Homo sapiens: one gene and its partners. The protein of the gene in region 3 interacts with the protein of the main gene of each other region in a pairwise test. Each region holds a gene or a part of one and is shown on either strand. Other genes may lie near its edges.

Evidence for each region. The genes of interacting proteins can lie anywhere in the genome.
Region 1: the proteins of PDCD10 (region 3) and FAM118B interact in binary tests that used the Homo sapiens proteins (3 or more experiments, as listed by UniProt).
Region 2: the proteins of PDCD10 (region 3) and PGCKA1 interact in binary tests that used the Homo sapiens proteins (3 or more experiments, as listed by UniProt).

Annotation. Positions count from the first base shown.
Region 1 is NC_000011.10:126,235,774-126,242,800, forward strand, and holds part of FAM118B (protein FAM118B), read left to right. Parts: intron 1-156; exon of another isoform or gene 157-298; coding exon of another isoform or gene 299-482; intron 483-5,018; coding exon 5,019-5,271; intron 5,272-7,027. Other genes in the region: SRPRA (signal recognition particle receptor subunit alpha), read right to left, coding at 299-482. UniProt on the Homo sapiens protein: May play a role in Cajal bodies formation.
Region 2 is NC_000004.12:37,449,885-37,456,943, reverse strand, and holds the start of PGCKA1 (PDCD10 and GCKIII kinases-associated protein 1), read right to left. Parts: upstream 3,020-7,059; 5' UTR 2,904-3,019; intron 2,628-2,903; exon of another isoform or gene 1,850-2,627; intron 1,465-1,849; exon of another isoform or gene 1-1,464. UniProt on the Homo sapiens protein: Acts as a tumor suppressor. Acts as a tumor suppressor for colorectal cancer cell proliferation by targeting KEAP1/USP17/ELK1/CDK6 axis.
Region 3 is NC_000003.12:167,682,867-167,689,893, forward strand, and holds the end of PDCD10 (programmed cell death protein 10), read right to left. Parts: intron 4,828-7,027; coding exon 4,749-4,827; intron 4,451-4,748; coding exon 4,368-4,450; intron 1,524-4,367; coding exon 1,442-1,523; 3' UTR 432-1,441; downstream 1-431. UniProt on the Homo sapiens protein: Promotes cell proliferation. Modulates apoptotic pathways. Increases mitogen-activated protein kinase activity and STK26 activity. Important for cell migration, and for normal structure and assembly of the Golgi complex.

The DNA of each region.
Region 1 (7,027 bases), on a different chromosome or scaffold from region 3:
CTCCCAAAGTGCTGGGATTATAGGCGTGAGCCACTGTGCCCGGCCTGGTTCAATCCACTTTTAATATTTACATTATTACGACTGTATAAGTAGTATTCATAGCTGAGCCTAATGCGTAACGATTATGTTTCCTTTCTTGCCCATTTTTTTTGCTTATGTCATTAAAGACTGTCTTTTTTGTTTGTTTGTTTGCTTTCAATGTATTCTCACATGCTCTGACAGAAGAATAAATCTCCTAGCTATACTGAAACACACCGATAACTTGCTGGTTTGTGTCATGGATTCTTCCTTCTGGATGCTAGTCCACTCTGGACACTTGTTCTCCAGTCCTGTTGCGTTCCTGATATTTGCTATTTCCCATTCCCATCATCCTGATAATTTCCTTTACATCTCTCCTGTATCGATTCTCTGTTTGCTGGATCTCATGTCCTCTTTTTTGGTGCACGCCTTTGTTTTCCTGAAGCATGTCCTTGCATAGCCTCCTAAGTAAGGACCCATAGGAGAAAATTATTTGGACATATTTGAAAAGGTCTTTATCATACACTTACATTCATTTGATGGTTTGACTGAGTATAGAATTTTTAGTATCTCTCATTCATACTCTGCTAACATCTAAGTATTCCTGCCAAAATAGCCACTCTGTTCTGATTCCCAATCCTTTGTATTGTATGACCTCTTTCCCTGTTTTTTGTTTTGTTTTGTTTCATTTTTGTTGTTGTTGTTGTTCATTAGAAGCTTATAAGGATCATTATTTTATTCTCAGTAACCTGAAATTTCACAGTGATGTATCTTGTCATATGAATCTAGACACCGGGCAGCTCTTTAAAGCTGGCAACTAGTACCTTCACTTTGGAGAAGTTGACTTATATTACTTTTTTGATACTTTCCATTACAATGTTTTTTCTATTCCACATTTTTTTAAAACTCTTGTTATTCAGATGTTGGACTTCTTGTATTAAGTCTCTAATTTTTTATGTGTTGCTTTATTTTTTTCCCCCCCATTTCGTTTTCTTAAATTTAGCTTTCTCGGGGGTTCTCTGTTTTATCTTGTGGATTTAAAAATTTCTGTTGCGTTATTTTTGATTTATGAAGTCTTTTTGTTTGTTCATTTTTTCATAGCACTCTGTTTATGTTTCACAGATGCTTTTTTTTTTTTTTTTTTTTAGACAGAGTCTCACTGTCTCCCAGGCTGGAGTGCAGTGACACTATCTCGGCTCATTGCAAGCTCTGCCTCCCGGGTTCACACCATTCTCCTGCCTCAGCCTCCCGAGTAGCTGGGACTACAGGCGCCCGCCACCATGCCCGGCTAATTTTTTGTATTTTTAGTAGAGACGGGATTTCACTGTGTTAGCCAGGATGGCCTTAATCTCCTGACCTCATGATCCACCTGCCTCAGCCTCCTAAAGTGCAGGGATTACAGACGTGAGCCACCGCGCCTGGCCTTTTTTTTTTTTTTTTTTTTTTTGAGATGGAGTCTCGCTCTGTTGCCCAGGCTGGAGTGCAATGGTGCAATCTCAGCTCACTGCAACCTCTGCCTCCCGGGTTCAAGCAATTCTCCTGCCTCAGCCTCCTGAGTAGCTGGGATTACAAACGTGCTCTACCACACCTGGCTAATTTTTATTTTATTTATTTATTTATTTTTTAAATAAAGACAGGTTTTCACCATGTTGACCAGGCTGATCTCAAACTCCTGACCTCAAGTGATCCACCTGCCTTGGCCTCCCAAAGTGCTGGGATGACAGGCGTGAGCCACCCCACCTGGCCAATTTTAAAAAAATCTAGGCCAGGCTCGGTGGCTCACGCCTGTCATCCCAGCACTTTGGGAGGCTGAGGTGGGCAGATCGTGAGGTCAGGAGATCGAGACCATCCTGGGTACCTGGGTAACATAGTGAAACCCTGTCTCTACTAAAAAAAAAAAAAAAAAAAAAAAAAAATTAGCGGGGCGTGGTGGCGCGTGCCTGTAATCCCAGCTACTCGGGAGGCTGAGGCAGGAGAATCACTTGAACCTGGGAGGCGGAGGTTGCAGTGAGCTGAGATTGTGTCACTGCACTCCAGCCTGGCAACAAAGCTAGACTCCGTCTCCAAAAAAAAAAAAAAAAAGAAAAGAAAAAATATATGTGAGGATATCATTGTTTTCTTTTAATTTTTTTTTCTCCTTCCCATACTATCTCTTATTTCCTTCAGATTTCTCTCTACCTGCTAGTTTGTTTGGTATAACTGTTATGTTGGGGGCTTTCCTCAGATGTGAGGTGACCCTTGTTTGTCTGCCCATTTTTAACAGAAAACACCAAAAAGCCAATGGAAGAGGCCGGGTGCGGTGGCTCACGCCTGTAATCCCAGCACTTTGGGAGGCCAAGGCAGGCGGATCACTTGAGGTCAGGAGTTTGAGACCAGCCTGGCCAACCTGGTGAAACCCCGTCTCTACTAAAAATACAAAAATTGGCTGGGTGTGGTGGCACGTGCCTGTAATCCCAGCTACTCGGGAGGCTGAAGCAAGAGAATCACTTGAACCCAGGAGGCAGAGGTTGCAGTGAGCCAAGATTACGAGATTCCATCTCAAAAAAAAAAGCCAGTTGGAGAATCTGTGTGTACATAAGGGGCTTGGTCCCAGACTCTATGTAGAGTTAAGGAATTCCCACCTGTCAGAATCTGCAGGTTTTTCATCTCATACTGGCCATTTTCCTGAAAGAGGAATCGTCCTCATTTCCTAACTGGATGGGGGATAGGGGTGCAGGTACAGAGTTGATTCCTAGAGTCTGAAAAGCTTCCTCTGGGGAAAGAGAGTTGGGGGAAATCTTGTATTTTATATACAGACTTTTACTTAATCCCCACCCTCAGCTGTGTGCAGTGTTCTCAGATATAGTCCTCTGGTCAACCTCTGCAGAAGGGAAACCTCTAGCCTGCTGAAAGTTGTAACTGTTAAAGGCTTGTAACTGATTCTCCTATTTTAGCCCCACCAGCCCCTCTACCTTTAGATGTACATGAACATTCCCAAAATTCTACCAAGGGAATCGGCCTTTGCATTACAATTGGTAAAATGTTGTTGCCCTTTGACCTCTGTTGTCTGCTGTCATCTTTACCTAGCCTACTTTTTAGGTATATATACCCGCTAAAAAAAAAAAGTAACTATTATTTGGTGGTTTACAAAGAACCAGTAATAAAACACAATTGTTAAATGTTTTATTTTTAAGTGGAAGTCTTTTTTTTTTTTTTTTTCGAGACAAGGTCTTGTTCTGTCACCCAGGCTGGAGTGCAGTGGCACAAACACAGCTCACTGCAACCTCAGCCTCCTGGGCTCACGTGATCCTCCCGTGAACTTAGCCTCCCAGGTAGCTGGGACTACAGACGTGCCTAATTTTCTTTTTCGTTCTTTCTTTGTTTGGCAGAGATGGGGTCTCACTAAGTTGCCTAGGCTTGTCTCAAACTCCTGGGCTCAAGCTCAGCCTCCTAAAGTGCTGAGATTACAGGCATGAACCACTGCACTTAGCCAAATTGGAAGTCTTAATTAGGAAGAATTATAGTTCAAATCTGTATGTTATATAAAAAAATACAGTACAACAGTATAAAATGAAAAGTAAAAAGTCCTTATTCTCTGCTATCCCCATTTAACCACTATTTATACATCTTGTGAATCCTAGAAATTTTCTATGTGTGTGTATATTTGTTTATGTGGATTTGTGTATGCTTCACTATCTTGATTGCTCTGAACTGAAACTCATTTTTCATCATTTGCTTCTAACATCTATTATTAATGTCTTTTCTAGTAGACTGATCTTTCAAGATCAGGGACTCCATTTTGTTCATGGATACATGACTCCCGTAGTGTCTGGTACATACAGGTTTTCCTTTCCTGCCTCAGCCTCCCTAGTAGCTGGGACTACAGGTGTGCGCCACCAGACCCAGCTAATTTTTGTATTTTTAGTAGACACAGAGTTTCACCATGTTGGCCAGGCTGGTCTTGAACTCCTGACCTCAAGTAATCAGCCCACCTTGGCCCCCCAAAGTGCTGGGATTACAGGCGTGAGCCACTGCTCCTGGCCTCGGTTTTTCATATTTGTTGAATGACTGAATGCAGAAGCTCGGGTTAGGGAAAGCAGTTTTAGAGGCTGTGTCCCCAAAACCAGGTTTCCCAAGGCTTGAAAGTGCTATTCCTTTCTTGAGTTATGCCAAAATGCTGATCCTCTCCATTTTATTATTTAGACAAAAAGGTTGGGGAGAAGCCATTTTCAGGGGAGGGGAACATGCCATCAGCAAAAATTAATGTGAAGGAACATATTTCAAGCAGGGATAGTCTCCAGAATGAAAGAGAGGGGAACAAAAACAAAAATTAGCACCCATGCTGTCTCACATATGGGCCTCAGAACAGAGAAGTCTGTCTCTGCTTATCATGGTAAGAAAGGAATGTTTTTCACTTTTTGTCATGTCCTTTGATTAGTTAATGTCTTTATTTAGGTATGTAGGGCCCCTGTGTTTTCAGAATTCTATTGGCCACTTTTTTTTTCTTTTTTTTTTTTGCCTGAGGTTAATGTTTACAAAATTCAGAATTAAATTTTGTATTGCCTTTCCCCTAGTGTTTTACATTTCTCAATAATAGGAACTTAATTTGTCCTGGGGTTCTTTTCTCTTTTTCTAGAGTACAAATCAAACGTCTTCTTTTGAAATTTAATACTGGTTTAAAATATAATTTAGTTGGCAGAAGTCAGCTGAGCTATAGTCTATTTGGATCTTTTCCTAATATTAGTGGAATTTCTTAGGTTGAGAGGACTAGGAAGGGAAAACTGATTTTAAGATTGGTTTTGGGATTCCTGAAATAGGTTTATGACTTGTTTTTCAGCAAGCACTGACACAATATTCTGGTTGTTTTCTTTAAACTGCTTTGGAAAGGTGTCAAAAACTGCTGTTCATCTTCTTTGCAACTATAAAAGTTAGCTAAAAACTGTAACCTGAGTCAGACAGTCTTTCTGTGTGCCTCATATCTATTGGATATTCCAATCCTCTCATTTGTTTTGCTTTTATAGGAAGCTGCTTCCAAGCTTAAAAACTAAGAAGCCTCGAGAACTTGTGCTAGTGATTGGAACAGGCATTAGTGCTGCAGTTGCGCCCCAAGTTCCAGCCCTCAAATCCTGGAAGGGGTTAATTCAGGCCTTACTGGATGCTGCCATTGATTTTGATCTTTTAGAAGATGAGGAGAGCAAAAAGTTTCAGAAATGTCTCCATGAAGACAAGAACCTGGTCCATGTTGCCCATGACCTTATCCAGAAACTCTCTCCTGTGAGTACCCTAGTATGTGCCACAGTATTTGGAATTTCCTAAAATTTAACTATCACAACTAGCATGATTTGGCTGTCAAAACTAGCATGCCAAATGTAACAGGGATATTCATTTACAGCTTGTAGGTTTCCATAACATTTGACTCTTCTGCGCAATGTCTGTTTATGGACCCTACTCAGGACAGTTGTCTTAACCCCATTTCACTGTGTGTCTATGAGAGAGAAATGATGTTGAGGACTTTATATGTACAAATTACCACTGTGTTTTGAATTTATTTTTTTCCTGCATCACTACTATAAAAGCTGTGTTCTGTGGCATCCATGCCTTGTATGGAATCCCACAAAGATTGGAGATAATTTTATCATTTTATACATGAAACAAAACCAGTTTTTAGTGTTCTTTTTAGAGGTAATAAGTCAAAATATTTAGAAGGAATTGCACCTTATTTTACCAAACTGAGTTGGATAAAAGGACTCCCTGTCTTGCTTTGTCTGAAAATTTATTTATTTATTTATTTATTTTTTGATGGAATCTTCTTCTTGTCACCCAGGCTGAAGTTCAGTGGTTCGATCTCGCCTCATGGCAGCCTCCGCCTCCTGGGTTCAAGCGATTCTCCTGTCTCAGCCTCCTGAGTAGGTGGGATTACAGGCATGTGCCACCATGCCCAGCTAATTTTTGTATTTTTAGTAGAGACAGGGTTTTGCCATGTTGGTCAAGCTGGTCTCGAACTTCTGACCTCAAGTGATCTGCCCACCTCAGCCTCACAAAGTGCTGGGATTATAGGCATGAGCCACTGCACCCAGCCTGTTTTAAAATCTTAAAAATCAGGCTTCTAGGGCCAGGCGTGGTGGGCACCTGTAATCCCAGCTGCTCAGGAGGCTGAGGCAGGAGAATGGCTTGAACCCGGGAGGTGGAGGTTGCACTGAGTTGCGGTCGCGCCACTGCACTCCAGCCTGGGCGACAGAGGAAGACTCCGTCTCAAAAAAAAAAAAAAAAAAAGGAATTAATGGGGTTTTAAAGAGTTCATGGAATCTCCATACACTTTATAAAAATTAAAAATGGATCAAAGACCTAAATATGATACCTAAAACTGTAAAACTCTTAGAAGAAAATACAGATTTAAAATTTCATGACTGGATCTGGCAGTGGTTTTTTAGACATGACACCAAAAATGCAAAAAACTAAAGTAAAAAAAAATATAGATAAACTGGACTTCTCCAAAGTTAAAAACTGTTAGGCTGAAAGGACACTGTCAAGAAAGTGAGCCGGGGATGGTGGCTCATGCCTATAATCCCAGAACTTTGGGAGGCCAAGGCAGGAGAACTGCTTGAGGGCATGAGTTCAAGACCAGCCTGGACAACATAGTGAGACCCTGTCTCTACCAAAAGAAAAAAAAAAGTGAAAAGACAGCTTCCAGAATGAGAAAATGTTAGCAAATCACATATCTCATAGGCGTATAATATCCAGAATCTATAAAGAACTACTGTAACTTAATAAAGGCTAATAATTCAATTTTAAAATAACGATGTAGTTGAATAGACATTTCTCCAAAGAAGATACACAAACGGCCAATAAGTGCATACGAAAAGATGTTCAGCGTCATTAGTCATTAGGAAAATACAAATCAAAACCACAACAAGGTGCCATTTCACACCCGCTGGCATGACTAGAATCAAGAAGACAATAATAAGTGTTATTAAGGATGTGGAGAAATTGGAACCTTTGTGGGAATGTAAAGTGATGCAGTTGCTTTGGA
Region 2 (7,059 bases), on a different chromosome or scaffold from region 3:
TTAATGGGTTCTTACAGTTAAAATCTTAAATACCAGTGCTTCTTTAACTATCTTTCGAATCAGTTCACTTCTCTCTCTCCTCTAATTTAAATTTTTGCCGCAGCTGCCTTTGGTCTTGGTTGTATCTTTCCTGTTTCATTCTCATTGCAGCCTGCATGAACTCTCTAAAATAGAGATCTGCTGTGCTTAAGATCCTTCAATGGTTTCTCCCAAGATATTGGGATCTCTGAAGACAAGGACTGTGTCCCCAGAAACTCATCGACTCTCTGGTGTCTCTGGGTCTACGCACATGATGTCTCCAAGGCCAGGTCAGGGTTTTATTAAATTTTGTAGAACCACTTGTACACTGAACAGAACAGAGTTCAGCACTTCTGATAAAGTTTGAGTGAGATACAATATTCCTTTTGTCATTTGTTAATATTCATTGCAGCTCTGGAACATCTTTTCTACAATGCCTGACAACACTGAGTCAGAGTTTTAATTTTCTGTTTCAGGACACGTATTCATTGGCTTGGTGTTTTACGTATGTTTTAGGAAAGGATTATTTGATAATCTACAGTCCTGAAGATTTTAACTAACCTCTGTGGGACTATGATATTCTCGGGTGAAAAGGGTACAAGTAGATGAGCGATTTCATTTTCAGTTTATTCTCTTAAATAGCAGTCAGAGTAAGAAAGGCTACAACTGGAGACACAGGATGGCTCAATGGTTAAGAGCAGGCACTCGAGAAAGACTACATCTGACCTGCACATAGGTGAAGACTCCAAGTCGGCTTCCCCTAGGATGACCCCTTTAACTCAACTCTTTTCTACACACCTACAAAGTCTCTCTGTAAGCATGTAATCTAATGACCAAAAAGAATGACCAAAAAGAAAATCTGCCTAATGACCAAGAAAGAAAAGCAGGACATAGGTACTAGTTACTATTTAACCAAGACTGTAAAAGATCCCAAGATTCAGGGTTACCAGAAAAATTGTGTAACTAGGGGAATGTGAAACACAGTCTAGGGAGAGGAAACCTAGCTACTGGAAGGCTGGTATTCAATTATTTGGAAACTGGCGTCTATTCCAAGAAGCACCGTGAATGGGCTTCCGGGCACCAAGAGCGGGCTGTTCTAGGAGGAAAGGGGCCGGCCCTACCTGTGCTCTGCCCTTGGGCTGCAAATGGATTCTGGCCGGAGCTTAGCCAGGTTGTATTTCCGGCTCAGAGAGGGTCTGGGTGGGACGTCAAGGGAATCATTCCATGTTTAGGATAATGGAACGTGTTGAGTTGGTATGCAAGGTTTTGTCTTCAATCCCAGATATCCAAAAAGCTCTTTGAAACACAGGAAAGATTGGCCCTATTTCTCTTTAGGTATCATTATTTATCTAAATCTCCGGAGCCATTGAGGACCAAGATCATACTTGCTGAATAAATGCACGGAGCAGGATCAGAGGATAGACACAGAATGGGCCAAGAAGAGAAGTAAGCCACACCTTCCCTTCCTGTCTCAGCATCTGTTCCATTTCTGCTCAGTGACCCAGGCAGCTTGCTGTTAGCTGACTCTTCACACTTTAGGGAAATACAAATAACTCCAGAACTTAACTTTACCTTTGAGCTTCAAATTGTTTCAATTATGTACCTTGTTTCAATTATCTGCCTCCTGACAGTGTTTCACAGCTGGGACCAGTAAGGTGGTCTATGATCTTTAACATCTGTCTTATCCTTCCTAAAATAGTATCAACTGAAGGATTAAATGGGGAAGGGGGAGGGGTAGGCAACAAATATAGACTCTATTATGTTTAAAAGCAGTAACCGCTTTCCATTTCTTTCTCATTCAACTCTCAAATGCTTCTCTTCTTTTCTCCAGATATTATTCCTCATAAGAGCTTGCTTGATTGCAACCACCAAGGACATCCACAAACCAGGGCAAGAAGGACCATCCGTAATTCTTTCCCATAAATAGTGACAGGAAGAAAATAAACGCCCTATTCTTCAATGATTTGAACCACCTCTGGAGCACAAACTTTCTCTAAATTCACAGGGCAAATATCCATCATGGGGCAGGTATCTATGCTGCCATGGAAAGTAACATAAAATGTACTAAGTCATCACAGGGAGTTTTAATTTTGTTTTTAAGGTCAATTGCCATGCTGGGGTAAAAAGCATTGATCCTTGCCTTTTATCACCGGAAAAATTCTTCACCAGTACTTTGTGAAAATCTCGCCTCATCAGGGCTGCCAAGGTCAATGCAACCTAAGTAACCAAGCTGGGAGATGCTTGCCTAATTATTAAATATTTAGCAAACAGTTTGTGACTATTTAACTGTTTGCACCTGGCACCCTCTTTTCACTACGTGAGGCCTCCTGGCACCCTGACCTCTTCCCCCACCCCTACCCACTGCCCAGGCCGCCAGCACCCCTGGGGGGCAAATACCGGGACCCAAGGGCATTTCAAAGAAACAGCAGAGGTCACATTCCATTTCCTTTTTATTAAAAAACATACTTAAAATGGGGGAGGAGGGCACAGATCTAAGGTAAAATCTCTTGCAGTTTTTTCAAGTTCGCATGCACCGTTGAAAGTTCATTAGTTAGGGATTTAAAAGCAAAAATGTTTCACACAACCAATTAAACGCCAAGCTTTACAAACGCCTTGGTCTTTGGTTTTGGGAATCTGTAAAAGTCCGCCTCCCCCCACCCGAGTTTTGCCCCTTTTAGAGCCCCTTTGTTGAATTACGTGACTTTTCCCGAAGTCATCAAACTTTGAATTGCGTCTCTAATTTTTTTTTTCAGGGCAAAAGCAAATCAAGAAATTAAACTTAAAAGTAGGCGACTCGGAGAGAAGTGGGGGAAAGCTCGCCCCAAAGCCAAGTTCCGCAGGACTAAAGCCCTCTTTGCGCGCGCGGGGCGGGGGATTGTCCCTACCTGGGGCCAGACGGCGGCGGCGGCGGCGGCGGCGGGGTCCCGGCGCCCATGGCTTCGCCGGCCTCGGGCAGCCGCGCCGGGAGACGCTAGCGGCTCCGCGCTGCCCTGAGCCCGCCGAGCTCGCAGCGGCCGCCCCAGCGCTGTCATTGGGCCCGCGCGTCACGTGGCCCGGGCTGCGGGTGAGCCTTCCCGACACGCGTAACCCTTTACCTGCACGCCCCGAGGATGCGGCGGGGCTAGGGCTCGAAACCCTGGAGTACGATGTCCGACATCCCCGGGGCCGGGGTGGCAGTCCCGGGCGCACTGAAGCAGAAAATCCACGCGCTTGTTGGCCTCTGAGCACAAACGACCGCGCCAACCGCCTGCCATCACGGGAAACTCCGGGGTGCTTACTCCAATGTTGCGCTGGAGAGAAGGGAGCTTCCTATGATCAAGGGACTGGAGTACGGGGATACACAAAACAAATGCACCCGCTGGCAAATAGTTGTGTACTCCCAAACCCCGAGAACTTGGCATTTTTCAGTTTCCTCCTTATTTCTGGCATTCGCCGCCTAGACCTGCTGTGAGTTCCATGGCCAGCCCTGTATGAGCTACATGGACCTAGAAACAGCGGGGGCGCCACCACCACGATAAAAACCAGGGAAGTTGCACACACTCGCCTGCACCCTAAAGGCCCCAGGGGGAGTTCAATGAACTCCTGGTTCCCCGTCCCCTCCTCACCCACTCCCCCTCCATCCCTTTCTTTTCCTGAGGTCTTAGGGCATTGGCCACAAGACTGCATCCAATCTACTGAGTTCCACATTCGTAGCTGTTACAATCCATATACCTAAGGCGGGTGGAGAACTGACTCTGCTTAAGGACTGGACATTCTTTTCACCTGTGCTCCAAAGCAAATGCTGAGCTTGCCAAAAAAAGTGTTAAGCAACTGCGCCACCTAGCTTACCCTCTTCTCTCTTCTTTTCAACTCATCCAGCAAGAGAATAAAATAGGATATTGGAGAGGCATCTGGACAGAGTATTATCTAAGGATGGACATAGTGTCCTTGGGTTTTCAATGTATCTACTTTAATGATGCCAGCCCCATTCACATGATATTTGCCAGGCTTTTGAGAATTTGAACACTCCATTTTTTGAATCCTTCTAATTTTGCAGTGCTGGGATTGCACGCTGTAAAGTGTTAGATTTTTGCAGGAAGTTATATGTGGTTTTACATCCTTTGTCACAATGAACGGCACTCATGTCCAACTTATAGTCGACACTTAATTGTCTACAGGATATTGATACATTTATCAAGTAGGTTATCTGTCGAAAAAGGGGTTGGTATTTGTATTGGGTTTCATTTTATTTATTTATTTATTATTATTTGAGACAGGGTCTGGCTGTTGCACACAGGCTGGAGTGTGATGCGATCTCAGCTTACTGCAACCTCCTCCTCTGGGGATCAAGGGATCCTCCCACCTCAGCCTCTGGAGTGCCTGGGGCTACAGGCTCATGCTACCATGCTCGGCTAATTTTTGTATTATTATTATTATTATTACTATTATTATTATTATTTTTGTGGAGACTAGGGTGGGGGTGGGCTCTCCTAAACTTGCCCAGGCTGGTCTTGAACTCCTGAGGTTAAGCAATCCGCTCGCCTCGGCCTCCCAAAGTGCTGGGATTGCAAGCTGAGCCACCGCGCGCCCCAGCCTGCCTTAGATTTTAAAGTGCAGTTCCTAGACTAATAGCATCGGCATAATCTGAGAGAATGTAGTAAAAATGCAAATTCTTGGGACCCACCCCAGACGTATTGATTCAGAAATAGTTGGGGAGGGAGGGTGAAGAAATCTGTGTTTTAGCAAGTGGTACCTACTCCAGTTTGCGAACCGTTGCTCTGAATATGCACAGGTAGCTGGCGAAGTTCCCCTCATCTATTAAATAGTAAGGGCTGGCATTCTATAAAGCTAGAGGTGCTGCTTTTATTTGTATCCCTAGATTACCAGTTTTATGTAATCTGTCATGTTGATACACTGAAACTGAACCCTCCATGTGTCCATACAACGTGTAATCTGTACTTCTTGCAGATCTCTTGGAATGCCAAATTGAGATCTGAGGGGCCCTTGTAAAACATATGGAAGAAAAACCTATGGTTTCTTGATGCACACCAGGGTGAAAACACCATGATTCACTTCATTTTTTAGGTGTGCCCATGTTTTCACTGACATGTAAATTGTTCCCAGCCAATGAGTCATGAAAGATAGGAAAGCTAATTTTTTTGAGTGGATTTATCAACATGGTTCCAAATTTGTGAAAGAGTTCTAAAAAACAAACAACATTAAAAACATTATGGTATCCGTTTATGTTATAGCCCAAAAAACTCCCCACACCATATTAGGCATTGCAGTAAGGGCTCCTTGCAATCCATTGCAATCTCCTTACTGAGAAAGAAAGAACTGAGTGGGTTTTTATTTGAGTTTTCTCCATGGGATAGATAGACTATTTCTAATGGGCTAGATGGATGTCTTACTTTTAAACTCTCTAGGTCCAAGTTTGTTTTGTGATTTTCCCCCACTTTCATCCCCTGTTCACTTTACATTTGTAATTCTATCTACTCAATTCCAATTGGAACTGGAATTATTTGAGTTTTCCCTCCCCTTCATCAAACACCTCTATCCATTAAGCCCTGAAATAAATCTTGAATTGCCCCTACTCTAAGCAGGTTCTAAGATCAGGTTCTAACACTTTCTAACTGAGATCATGGCCATGGTCTTTACTGGTCTCCCAGCTTCTGATCTTTTCCATCTGAAAGCCATCTGACAAAGTAACTGCCCTTCCCCAAAACTTTTTTTCCCAGCTCCCTGTTGAAACCAGCGCAATTTTCCAACAAGCCAAATGCCCATAGCACTGAAGCTTGAGAAACTTACACCTGCTGCCTGTTGACCAATTCCTCTTCCTTAACCCTCCCTAATTCCTGTTTTCCTATAGGAGGTTACAGTGAGATGCTAGACACCTGCTGCCTATTGAGCAACTCCTCTTCCTTGCCCTGCCTGTTTTCTCCCCCCATATAAACCCCAACTTTAGCCAGGGGAGATTCAGATTTGAGTCTTGTCTCCTGTCTCTGGCTGATATCACCCATAATAAAGCCTTCTTCCCTGACAATACTCATTGCCTTAGTGATTGGCTTTCTGTGTAGTGAGCAACAGGACCTAGGCTGGGCCCCTGGCTTTCAGTGACACTATTGACTACTGAATAAAGTCTAAAATCCCAACAGCATTTGAAGTCGCCTGAAATATGCTTCAATGCCCATTTTTGCTCATGCAGCTTCCTTTACCTGAAATGTCTCTCTGACATTGACAGCTAAGTCCTAATTATTCTTCTAGCCTCAGCTCTATCTCCTCTGGGTCAACCTTTTCGATATTCAGGTAGTGTTAATTGCTCCTCTGTAGTGTATCCTCAGCACCTGGCTCTCACTCTTACTAACTTTGAAATCAGTCTCATCTGGTTTAGCTGTGTCTCTTCTAGACTGTAGGGTTCTGGATGGCAGGAGTCATGCGTGACTTTTCAAATCATTCCAGGATCTAGCATAATGCCTTGGGCATAGCAAGCATACAGTGTTGACTGTTGTGTTCTTGGCTCTAGGAAAGAAGATATTTAAACAAACTCTATTTATTTGAAATGCTTTTTTGCAAATATTTATTAACTTCTCTACATTTTCTTTGAGAACTAAAAGGAGAGGGGTTTAGCCTTTTCAACCTAAAGATATTACCCTTTGTAAGTAATGGAATTGTTTTCAGTGGTGGTAAATTTTGAACACGTTAGTCTCAGCCATGTGATGCAGGCAATAAACCAGAATAATTTATTTTCGTAACACATTAAAGTTTCTCTGAGAACAATTATTTCATGACAACTAGATACTAGCTTTCAGATTATTTCCTATGTATCATCACTTAAGCTCACCAATACTCCTCTGTTTCTGTTTTTTAAAAATATTTTTTGGTGCGTGTGTGGATTCTCAGATCCAAGAGGCAAGAGATGGAAGAAAGGGCATGTGGGAAGGCTCCCCTTGGTCCTGCTCGTTCGCGCAAAGGGAATTTATGAGAGAGACAACTCCTCAGTCATCACCCTTCTTCTCCTTCCTCCCCATCCTTCTATTAATGAATTCATCAACTATTTCTGTA
Region 3 (7,027 bases):
AAAGTCTGCTGCAAATAAAACAGTGTCTTTTTTCTTCATATATCCACAAGTCTATTCGGCAAATGATCACCCATCTACCTCCAAGAGTGAATGATAGTTTATGCCAAAAATAAATAAAGATCAGCATTCTATTTGTCTTACTGGCTACATATCTTTGAAGAAAAAAAAAAATCAGGTCAGTAAAATGTTCATTAATTAAGAGATTTCATCCAATTTTCATCTAATTGCCTATTTTTTTTTGCTCCTTTCAACATATTTTCATTTACATTTAACAGGATGTTCTACTTTTATGGTGCCAATGATAATTCTTTAAAAATCTGTTTTTTAAAATGGAGAAAAAATAAAATAACTTGAGTTGCATAACAGCAAAAAAATATACTGTCAACAGAAACTTAGTTTAACGTCTAAAATCTTTATAAAAGATAAGCAAATTCTGATTTTTTCCCTTTATTTTATAATTGAAAAATGAAACCACTTAACATGAACACTTGATACATAATTTCCTTAAAACTTCTCTATGGTGAAATAAAACTGTACCTAGTTGAAGAGTGTATATAATATTAACACTCATGACAATTTCAATCCAACCGTTGATATAGCTTCAAATTACTATTAATTGTGGCTATTTTTTGGGAAAAAATTGTGCAAAGCTTATGAGGGCCCAGTATACGAAAGGCTTAATTTTTAAGAGTCAAATCTACATTTGTCACAAGAGTTCAAAAAGTGGCATTATAGTGCAAAAACACTAGAAAATGCTATCTCTTACTCATAAGTCGTTTAAAACAGGTTGGAAATCATATAAAAATACTCAGTACCTTATAAGTAATTAACAAAAATATTTCCATTGACTACTCTGTGTCCAAAGTGATTAAGGACAAAAATAGAAATTCTTGCTTTATTATTTGATAAACTGCTGATAAGCTCCCATTAGAAGTTTTTTAGACATTACACCAAGTTGTCTTGGTCTTCTGTTCATATATATATATATATATATATATATACACACATATATATATGCATTTTTTCAAGTAAAGAAATGTTTAACAGATGTAAACTATTTATTGAATATTTGCCACCAAATATTGTTAAATACATTATCTTGCAGCATATCGCTTTCAAGTTAAAATGTCAGAAACAAACACCAATATTTACAATTCTTTTAAGGAATGTTATATAATGACACATTAAGGCGTAAATTCTTTTGGCTTATAATTCTTAAAAGAATGATAATAGCAAAAGTGATGCAAAATCTTCAGTGTGAGATTATGATTAAGCTACATTTTACAAAAATATGGTGTAAGATGGCAATAATCCCATTCAACATCCTGGATTAGATCCCTTCAGGAGGGACTGATAATTTATACAGTCAAACTTTAAAATTTACAGATAAAGGCAGTTCAATACTGCCACTGAGAAGTACATCTCTTAACATATACAACTTTCAGGCCACAGTTTTGAAGGTCTGAAGTATTAAGTTGGTTTGATGAATTAGTCGGTTGGCACTTACGAACACATTTATTGCCCTGTTTAAAAAGAAAAGAATAAGCATTAATTTCATCCAAAAAATTCACCCTTTTAAGATTTATACTATTAACAGTAGCAATGGAATCAATTTTAGAAAAAAAAAAAAGACAAGTTAGTATTATTAAAACTTTTATTCCAATTTAGGATATAATAGTCTTGCATCATTTTAAACTATCTAGTAATTACTGCCCCCTGGTGGTTCTGACTGGTAATAAAATGTTGGAGGACTGCTAATGATAGTGCCTCAACAACCCAGTTCATTTATAGGTGGAACAAGTTAACTGGCCAAAAGGAGGATTCAGATGTGGTCTCCAGCTGTGGTTTCATAGAAGTTAACAAGTAAAATCCAGCAAAGTATCATAATCTCAAAATTTGTAATTAATGGGCATAATACTCAAGAAAAATCTAATTACTTCCAATCTGATTCATCCCAATCTCTTTATCTCCTTAAAAAAAGGTAGAAATTCTAAGCTACAAACTACTACAAACTACTTTTACTATAAACATACTTTTAAAACAAAATAATCATGCAGTTTCAAAATCTGGGAGCTGACAACATATAAAAATATATTCTTTAAAACTGGCTTTGAGCCCCACCACATTCTCCTAATGGCTCATCTTCATGCAGCTGGGATTCAGAGATGATGCCCTAGTCCCACTGTGTGGCCTCAACAGTTTCCTAGTATCATATCTAGCATGCACCCGCATCCTAGACATTTCTCAAAAGAGAAGGCCCAGGGACTGGACCTGGTGGCTCGCACCTGTAATCCCAGCACTTTGGGAGGCCAAGGTGGGCGGATCATGAGGTCTCTTGGAGTGTGAGACCAGCCTGGCCAACATGGTGAAACCTTGTCTCTACTAAAAATACAAAAATTAGCCGGGCATGGTGGCATGTGTCTATAATCCCAGCTCGGGAGGCTGAGGCAGGAGAATTGCTTGAACCCAGGAGCTGGAGGTCGCAGTGAGCCCAGATCCAGCCTGGGCAACATAGCAAGACTCTGTCTCCAAAAAAAAAAAAAAAAAAAAAAAAGAGAAGGGCCAGGAAGAAATAGCTGAATCAATGCAAATCCATCCCCCTACTGAAAGATGGCCTAAAGATCAGGTTCTATCAATAATTTTCTGTTTTGAGGAAACAGGTATAAAACTCAAGCACATTATTGATACACAAAGAACTGGAATTTTAAAAAGCTGCTGAATGGAGAGAAAGTAGTAGCAACGACACTGAATCCATATGCAGAGTAAATAATTTCAATTAATTAATGAAAATTAGTCTCTAAATTAATGTCTACCTTTCATTGTGCTTATTCCATAATAGTAATTTAAAATCAGAAATAATAATCCCATCATGTAAATTATTATTTTAATGTGTTTTTGGTTATTTGAGCTTAGCATAAATCAAATAAAAGTTTATTTTCAAAACACAAATGCCAGCTTATTAAACTAAGTCATCAAGGAGCATTTCCCTTAGACAAACCTGTGTATGGAACACCACCACAAAACAAGTAATAAAATTTAGCTCGATATCTCTAATTCATAATATAAATGTAAATACTTCAACCTGTTTGAACTGTTAAAAATGACTCTGAAAATTAACATAATTCTATCTAATGTATTTTTATCATTTTTAAATATTACTACAATAATACTGTAATGATGTGACATGAATATAGAGATCTTAAAACCTGAATAGCAGGATGGAATGATTGAGGTCTCTATTTACTTTTCTGACTTTAAGCACTGTTAAAAAATAATCTTGTTCAAAAAATTCTCACATTTGACTTGAAGTGCAAATAACTACCTATACGGCCAGACTTTCCATCAGTTTATACATTATACGTATGCATGTATGTATGTTAAAATATATAAAATCTCTTGGTTTTCTATAGTGCATCACAACCAATTATATATAAATTAAAAAATAATGTCCAATTTACATTTTAGTATATTTCCTATTTTATAGAATGATGCTGTGAAAGCCTCTTTCCAGGAGAGTGGGTCAAAACCCTTACAGCACTTTAAAAACATCTGGGGCACTTTTACAAAATATCTAAACCCTGACTCCACTCCCAGCCAACTGAATCAGAATCTCTGCAGGTGGGGCCTAGGCAGTGGGAATTTTTTAAAAACTGTCCTCAAGTGACTCTAATGCACAGAAAGGATTGACAACTATTGCTTTAACTTTAGTGCAGTAGTTCTCAATAGACCTGTAATGTATCACCTGAAAATTTCTAAGAAATGCAAATTCTTAGGCTCCATCCTAGACCTACGAAATCAGAAATTCTAGAAGTGGGACCCTCGAGCAATTTGCAATTTGACTGTAACAAGTCCTCCAGATGACTCTGATGCCACTAAAGTTTGAGAACCACTGTTTCAGGAGTGTATAAAGTAGGCCAATGAACTAAAATTGCTTTTACATTTTTAAATGGTTAAAAAACAAAAGAAGAATATTATATGACAGGTAAAAATTATTTCAAGATACTGAAATTTGAATTTTGTATAAAGTTTTATTAAAACACAGTCACACCCCCTTGTTTGTACATTGTCTATGGCTTGTTTCTGTACTACAACAGCAGAGATGGGTGGATAACGGCAACAGGCCCACCAAATCTAACATATTTACTACCTGGCTCTTTTCAGAAAGCGTCTGATAACTCCTGTTCTAGAAAGGAGTTATGGCTAGATTAGCAACCATTCATTTTCTATTGTTAATGGTCTGCCTTCATTATCAGTTGCCTGGAGTACTAATAATAAAATAAAAGGGCTTAATTTATGTGGTTTTCATATCATATAAAACCACATAATCTATTTAATTTTAAAAGTAAAGGATAAATTACAGTACTTACTTGCCATCTTTAAAATACGTTTTCAGAGTATCACTGAAACTTTTGGAGTACTTTACAAATTCTTTCTTTTGGTGTTCAAGTGCCTACAGTCACAAAATATAATAAGAAATAAAGTACTAAATAAGAGAAATAATCACAAAAGCCAAAGGCAAGGACAAGAGATTACACAGGATATGGGATGCACTTTATATGAATATTACTAATAAGCAATTGTGGAGTACTCACTTTTAAATAAAAAGGCATATTTAAATTCAAGAATAAACTCAATGGTTAATGACACAAAACTATTTCCAACAATCAATCTTATTTTTAAGTCAATAAAACAACTAGGCATAAACCAACATCTAGGGTGTCAACTAGCAAGGCTTCTACTAAACGTACCCTGCGGTTCTGGTATTGATATTTCTTGAAGACATTATTCACTGTATCAAGAAGTTCTTTTATTGCACTAGCTATATCCCTGTTGGGAAAAGAATAAAGAATATCAGCTACATTTGAAAGAAATTTGTGAGAGAAAAGAACATCAGCTACATTTGAAAGAAATTAAGTACACTCTTAATCTAATCACAGTACACTCTTAATTATGTTAAGCGCAATCACTTCAAGAACAGCCAGCCTTTTCGGCTAGCTGGTTGGAGTGGGGATTTTAGCCTATACCCCTCTGTAATCCTGATTCTCTTGCACTGCTGACCAAAGGTTGCCAACCAAGACCAACTTTCTCAAATCAATCACATTTCATTAAGCGTTCCTTACTCAAATTTATAAAAAGATAAACATTACCTATGCCTGTCTTTTCCCATTTTAAAATTTTTCTTTGCTCTGGCTAATGTAGCTAAATTCAAGCTACCATGTTCTCTACTTTTGTTATTTGAACAAGGAACAATTTTATAATATTCTGCATTACATATAACTCAATTCTGTATTTAACAATGCTGTATGCTAGATACCTATTAGTTTTGATGTTTAACATAAAATATTTCCTCCTCAGAAAATATTCCTCTCCCCTGAGGAAATATTCTTCCTCCCTTACTCTTTTACAGACACTTTTAGCTTCTATCTAGCAGCCAAATATCCTCCTCTTTCAAACACTTACTATCAGTCACTATTCCCTTTGGAAAATATTTAAATTACTAGAGGAGACAACATCACAATATTCTTGCACTTTAACCTTCCCAGCAATCATCCTTTGACTATATATGCATCATCACCTCCCTCCCCTTTCTAAAGAAAAAAAAGAAGAAATGAATAATTCTCATTTGAGTTGACTGTTCTTCCTATCCATGCACCATTTTTTCTGAACTTTTTTTTGCCTTTCTAACTAGCCCCTTTTGATTTCCACATTTTAACCTCATAGCAATTTTTTTCCGCCAAATTGAACTTGATGTAATTCTGCATTCTCAAATAGTCTCACATTCTCTGCGACAAACCTTCTTTTTCACAGTCATTCTCTTAGCTGTTAGTCACAACAAAAACTTCAAATGCAATGCAACTGTGAAGAAATGAATAAGATGGAAATCTGCACCATCCTAAACATAACATTTTATTACTAATACTAATTACAAATGCCAGATTTCAGTTATTTCCTATCTAAAACATTTCAACATTCCTATTTCAAGGGGAAAAAAACCTCAGTGTCCAGGTTTCTGTGTGCATGTGGGTGTTTCCCAGCATATTTTTCAGTAAATAAGCTTGTAGAAATTTTAAGAATTAAAAGCATACAGAATTTTGATATTTTTTAAAAAAGTATTTTAGAGTACTCTGAAGTAGTAATTCCATTTTCATTGATTATTTCAATAATATTTTACTTATTACCTCTCTCAGGTCAAACACTGGTATTGGGCTGAAACATTGAAACATTACATATTCAAGTAGGACAGTAAGTCTTACATAAATGTTATCTAATTTTTTTTTGCCTCTGGTTTAGTAACAGCAGTTTTTAATTAGATAACTATTCCTTTCATTTATGGCTTAAGTTGAATCTTTGTATATTGGTGTGATGGACATAAACCCACTATTGTTTAATAAAATGCTGTCATAGGACTATTCTGTGAGAAAAATTACAATTTCAACAAATAAAACATGTCAAATCTCTAAATATGCAAGCTTCTCCAAATCCACAATGGAGTTATTTAAAATGGAATATAATGGAGCAAATTACATAGTGATCAGACAGAAGTTTATATAGTCTTACTTTGTAGTGTATTTCAATATTCTGCTAAAGAGGAATAAAATGTGTTTCCGGGGCTAGTCATCAAAATGAGCGTATGTTTCATATACAATAACAGTGGCTAGATTCTACAAGTCAAAAGAGTGGGTCTGAAACATGTTGCCTCATGCACCTAGGGAGACAAAAACACAGGGGAGAAGAAGGGAGGGTTTTGCTGGACAAAAAAAGAAAGACCTGCTGATAAATACTGGAAATCTCTATTTTAAAAGGGGGTGGGGGGAGGCGCAACTCCTCAGGTGACTGCTGATGAGTCAGGTTTGAAAACTTGGAGCTAAGGTTTAATGCCTTATTGGAACAGAGCTCTCTGTCAACCAAGGCCATTTATTCCTAAGCCTCTGTTTGGACACGAGGCAAAAGACTGTTAAATGCCTACCAAATTGTAGAAAAAATGTTCTCTAGAAACAATCTGCAGCAATGTATGTCAAATATTATG